Linked DNA regions of Homo sapiens: region 1 is linked to region 2. Evidence: fine-mapped expression QTL. Tissue or cell type: lymphoblastoid cells. Region 2 holds a variant in brackets; the other region holds the start of a gene. All regions are shown on one strand. Distances are between the middles of the regions.

What was found. PIP is the estimated chance that this variant, and not a neighbour inherited with it, causes the effect.
Region 1: EEF1A2 starts here. The variant in region 2 is fine-mapped to the expression of EEF1A2 in lymphoblastoid cells (TwinsUK, PIP 0.92).

Annotation. Positions count from the first base shown.
Region 1 is chr20:63,497,870-63,500,542 of GRCh38, reverse strand. It overlaps EEF1A2 (eukaryotic translation elongation factor 1 alpha 2), which reads left to right and starts at 1,460. Exons shown (of 8, transcript NM_001958.5): 1 at 1,460-1,485. LOC124904955 (a long non-coding RNA gene) reads right to left here and starts at 2,261. Exons shown (of 2, transcript XR_007067719.1): 1 at 1,920-2,261. RefSeq lists enhancers at 826-1,395, 1,656-2,451.
Region 2 is chr20:63,546,631-63,549,303 of GRCh38, reverse strand. It overlaps SRMS (src-related kinase lacking C-terminal regulatory tyrosine and N-terminal myristylation sites), which reads left to right and starts at 1,555. Exons shown (of 8, transcript NM_080823.4): 1 at 1,555-2,196. The coding sequence starts at 1,841. RefSeq lists an enhancer at 1,841-2,482. The variant C/T (reference allele first, on the strand shown) is at 1,325.

The sequences.
Region 1 (2,673 bases), 49 kb after region 2:
GCAGGCCCTCCCTGCCTCCTCTCCTGCCTGTGGCCCAGGAGCCCAAGTCCCTGGACTCCTATGGGGCAGACGCAGCCACAGACCAGGGTCCTCCTGAGAGGCCCTCTCCACAGGCTGGGGAGAACTGTTTGGCCCCGACCCTGGGCCCCCACCTTTCCTTCCTCCTCACACCTGCCAGCAGGCCAGGTAGGGGTCCAGTCGCTGGGGATCCCCATGGATTTGCCCAGTCGCAGCTGCTGGGCCCGACCCGGGGCCTCCATGTCAACACCCAGTGGGAACTCAGGGCTGAGAGGACAGGTGCCAGGGCTCTGCCCCCACTCAGCACACACCTCCCGAGACCCCGCTGGCAGGAAGATCCGAGTGCGTGGGGGTGGGGGGGCAGCGTGGGAGGGAAGACCTGAATACCTGGGTGAGACGACAGGATCTTGGGGTCTGGAGAAAGCCCCTAACCTTGGTCTTCACACAACACATGGCTGCCACATCCCCTTCCTCACAACCCACGTTGGTCATTACCCGCGTGTGCCAGGACCTCAGGGACTCCCCACTTCCTACAGAGCGTGGCCCGGTCTTTGGCTTGGCATCCTGACCCCATATGAGCATCAGCTACAAGGCGCTGAGGTGCAGCGGGGTGGGGCGCTGGGCGGGGGGGCCTGGGTCTGTCTGGATCTGACTCGCCCTTGGCTGGCGCTGTTTCCCAGCAGCAGCCGGAGGTCGGCGCACCCGGAGGGGAGGGTCCCTGGAAGATGTCAGTGGGTCTGGGAGCGGGCTTCCGGCGTTCCCTGCACCGTGGGAGACCAGCCTCTCAGGGGGAGGGTGGTTCTGCGCTGGATCCTCGGGGCCTGTCATGGTGCGCCCAGGAGGGCAGGCACGTGAGGACAGGGACTGGAAACCAGCAGATTTCCACCCTGAGGCCTGCACCCCCGGGCCTCATTAGGGAGAGCCCCTCAGAGCCGGGCTTCGTTGGTTCTGGGGCGTCCCCCATGAGCAGGGCCGGGGAGGGGCCGGTAGACCCAGGCTCGTCTCCCAGGCTGCAGCCCACCTGCTCCCCTCCCCCGCCTGCCGGCTCCGGTCCTCGGCGTCTGCCCTGTCCCCGGGGACCGCTTTTCGCGGCTCAAGCGTGTTCCTGCCCTGAGCCGGCTCTCGCCCCGTCTCCCGGGCCCGCCGCGCTCTCCCCGCGCCGTCTCCGTCCCGGTCCCTCCCTCCCGCCGCCTCCCTGCCCTGCCCCCCGCCCCGCCCCCGCCCGCGGCGCGTTTCTCCCCCGCCTCCCGCGTCCGTCTTTGCAGCCCGCGCCTCCCGCATCGCCTCGCGTCCCCGTGGCGCCCGCCCGCGCGCGTCCGCGCCCCGCCCCCTCCCGCGCGGTTCCGCATTGGCGTGCTGCAGGGCGCGGTGCACTGCGCCGCCACCGTCAATAGGTGGACCCCCTCCCGGAGATAAAACCGCCGGCGCCGGCGCCGCCAGTCCCTCTGGCTGAGACCTCGGCTCCGGGTAAGGACGCTCGGCCCCCGGGCCTCCGCCCCCGCCCCCGTCTTCCGAAGAGGGACCCCCGGGGCCGGTCCTGGGGGGCAGAGGGTGGCCGGGCCCCGCACCCGCCCCCGCGCGCGCCCGGAGTCCGGCTTCCGGGGGTCCCCGCGTCGGCCGGGCTGGGCCCGGGGTGGGGGGCGGCGCGGGGCGGCGGGGCCGGGTCCTGGGCGGCGATCGCCCCGTAGCCGTGACCTTGGGGCCGCGGGGACCCTGCGGGCCGGGGGCTGATGGGGGTCGGGCTTCGGGGCGCTGGGCCAGAGGACGCTGAGGGAGGTGGTGAGATCTGGGGGCCCTGGCCTCCCCACCCCCACCCGTGTTCCCACCCCAGGGTGGCTTCTGTCCTCTTTCCCTCCCCCAGCCACCTGTCCGCGAGGAGCAGCGTGGGTTTCTCCACTGACCTCTGTGATGGGACAGGGCTGTGACCCAGGGTCCTGAGTCACAGGGAGGGGGGGAGGGAGGGTGCCCCCTATACCCCCACGGGGCCGAGGGCATCTCCACCTGGCACTTGCTGGGCTCGGCAGGGCCGGGTCCTCCTTCCTCAGGCTGGAACAGGGACCCCCACCTCCCGGCCGCTGTCTGTCCCTGTGAGAGTCCGGGAGGGGGGTGCCTAGAGCTATTCTGGGTTCCTAATCTGGGCAGCGCATCTCCGTCGGGGCTCTGGCCCAGCCTGCCGGGCAGGGATGAGGGGAAGATGGCGCCGTCCCTGCCTGAGGAGGGGAGTGGGGAGCAGTGGCCATCTCTCCCCGGTGGCAGCGGGTGGGGGTGGGGCGCCGTGTCCCTGGCCCTGCCGCCGGGGAGGGGAGTGCGCGTGCAGGACAGGGCCCTGGAGCGCTGGGCAGGTGACTCATCACCCGGCTCTGCTGGTCACGGACGTACCCAGCCTGGCGCTGCGTGGTCTCTCCAAATGGTGGCTAACCCCTTCCCAAGGAGCAGCCCGCGGGCTCCAACGCCCAGTTATTTACAGCAGATGGGGCTGTTTGGGCTCAAGTGTGGGGTGGGGGCAGTGCACAGCCTCTGCTTGCCCTGGCCAGGCCCAGCTGTGGGTGGGGGCCCTTCCCTCCCCACCAAACATGGGGGCTTGGTTTGTGGGCAGGGATGCCTGTCCAGCCTGTGCCAGGACAGTCTCTGCTGGTGTCTCCCCCTGGGGCTCCC
Region 2 (2,673 bases):
GAGACGGCGGCGGGGGGAGTGGAGGGGAGGAGACGGCGGGGGTGGGTTGTGGGGAGGAGACGGCGTCGGGGGCGGGAGGAGACGGGCAGCGGGTGGGGGGAGGAGAGGGCGGCGGGGGCGGGAGGAGAGGGCGGCGGGGGGAAGCGCGGGAGGAGAAGGCGCTGGGGCCCCTCGAAGGCCACCCCCAATGTAGTATTTACAATTCTCCACATTTCTCAACACCCCCCACCACCCCCAGCAGGGCACCTCTCTGGTGCAGAGCCTGCCCTGAGCCTGGCGATGTCCAGTCTCCCAGGGCCCCTGCTGGCTCCAGGCTATCAGCCCGGACACAGCTTGGCTGCTGGGGTGCCCTGAGAGCCAGGCCACGGGTGTCACTGCCACCCCACAATGCACACACCAGTCCCCAGACGTGAGGTTTCTGAGAAGCCCATCTGTGACTCCAGGGCAGGCAGGTGCGAGGGGCTTGTCATTGGCTGGACACTGGTCACGCCTATTGGAGGGATGCATTCAGCCACACGCATGAAGTGGGGGCATGGATGCGTGTGAGATGTGGGAAAGGGGCGTGAGGCTCCCTGAAGGCCACCCAGGTGCGGAAGGGGCTGCTGGGGGAGGCCGGCAGGAGGAGTGAGAGACTGCAGATGGCCTCACCCCACCCCCGTGCCTCAGGACCCAGAGGGGAGGTGGGAGGAGTGAGAGACTGCAGATGGCCCCCACCCCACCCCACTCAGGACCCGGAGGGGATGTGGGAGGAGAGAGAGACTGCAGATGGCCACCACCCCATCCTCCTGCCTCAGGACCCTGTACCGTGCTGCTGGGTTTTGCTGGGATTTGCTCCCCCAGTCCTGCCCCGATCTGGGGACCTACCTGAGCGGGCAGAGTTTGCTTCAGCATGCGGGGGCTTGGCGCTGTCCAGGGAGAGGGTGGGAGGTCCCCAGCCAGGGACTCACCCGCCGCCCCTTCTCCGTGTGCTCATCCCCCTGAACTGGGGCCAGGCGTCCGCAGCCTCCACTTCCCCGCAGTGGCCTTTGGGTATGGCCTGGGCATTGACTGACTCAGAAGCCGGTCATCGGGCAGCATGGGGCATCTGGGTGCCTGGCCTGCGGCCGAGCTCCCTGCAATCAGCATCTCGTTTTACTGCATGAAAGCCGGGGTGCTGAGAGCCCCCTCACTCGCCTGTCCTCAGAATTTACTGCAGAGGCCGGAGGCTCGGCACCTGGTGCAGGGTTAATGATGTTAAAATATCTGGCCAACACTTAAATAAGCAGGCAATTTTTCACCTGAGTGCAGCTCAGGCTTGGCAACCACTGCAGGTGCTGAACAGCAG[C/T]GCTTCTCCGTGGAACCCCCACTTCTCCGTGGGCACGGGCGGCTGTTGGACTGTGGTGCCCTTGGGCATGGGCCAGGCCTGACTGGGCAGAGCCATTCCGCCTGCCTGGGCCTTGCAGAGGGCGGGAGAGAGGCTGGCCCTGCCCACCCCGCCCTCCTCGGGCCCCTCCTGGAGCCCGCCCCCGCCCCAGCCCAAGCTGCCCTCTGCCGTCGGGTTGGGGAGGGGACGGTGCACTCCAGACGCCAAGGAGGTCGAGGACAGGAGGTGCTGTCGGTGTGCCTGAGGCAGGGGGTCCGCCCTGCGCCCCACCCAGCCCCAACGCCAGCCCGGACGCCGGTGGGAACCGTGTGCCTCCTGGATCCAGGGGACCTCTGAGTGACCGCAGGGCCGGGGTCCCCTGTCACCCCACGGCCAGGGCAGGGAGCGCTGGACACCGGGTCCCACCGGCCCTGCCAGTTCCTCTTCCGGGCTCGCGGGCTCCCATGGCCCTCGGGCCCAGCGTGGTGACCCCGGGGGATGGAGCCGTTCCTCAGGAGGCGGCTGGCCTTCCTGTCCTTCTTCTGGGACAAGATCTGGCCGGCGGGCGGCGAGCCGGACCATGGCACCCCCGGGTCCCTGGACCCCAACACTGACCCAGTGCCCACGCTCCCCGCCGAGCCTTGCAGCCCCTTCCCTCAGCTCTTCCTTGCGCTCTATGACTTCACGGCGCGGTGTGGCGGGGAGCTGAGTGTCCGCCGCGGGGACAGGCTCTGTGCCCTCGAAGAGGGGGGCGGCTACATCTTCGCACGCAGGCTTTCGGGCCAGCCCAGCGCCGGGCTCGTGCCCATCACCCACGTGGCCAAGGCTTCTCCTGAGACGCTCTCAGACCAACCGTGAGTACCTCGGCCTCGGAGTCAGAGCCTGCCTCGCCCCCAGCTGGGGAGTCCAGAACAACGGCAGGATTTTGAGTTGGAAATCGCATGTCCGTGGCTATCTGTTCATTCATTCGTTCATCCACGCATTCATTCAGGGACAGCTGATGGGCCCCGGGCCGGCAGGTGTGGTAGGAAAACAGCAGTGTCCGCTGTGGGCTGCCGAGAGGGAGAGGAGGCTCCGGCAGGCGTGGTCAGGTCCTGTGGGGGGGAGCATCAGCTGCACCAGCTGGACACCCAGCAGGCGGTTCCTCCAGGACCCTGCCTGGCTGGCCAGGCCCTCCCGCCCTCACACAGGGAGTCCAGTGTTCATGGATCGGTCACTGCTTGGAGGGCAGGGGCTGGGGGCTGGGAGGCACCAGATGACAGGAGCTCCAGGAGCTCTGGGTGACGGCAGGTGAGCAGGGGCTGGGGGCTGGGGGCTGAGACAGGGGCCCA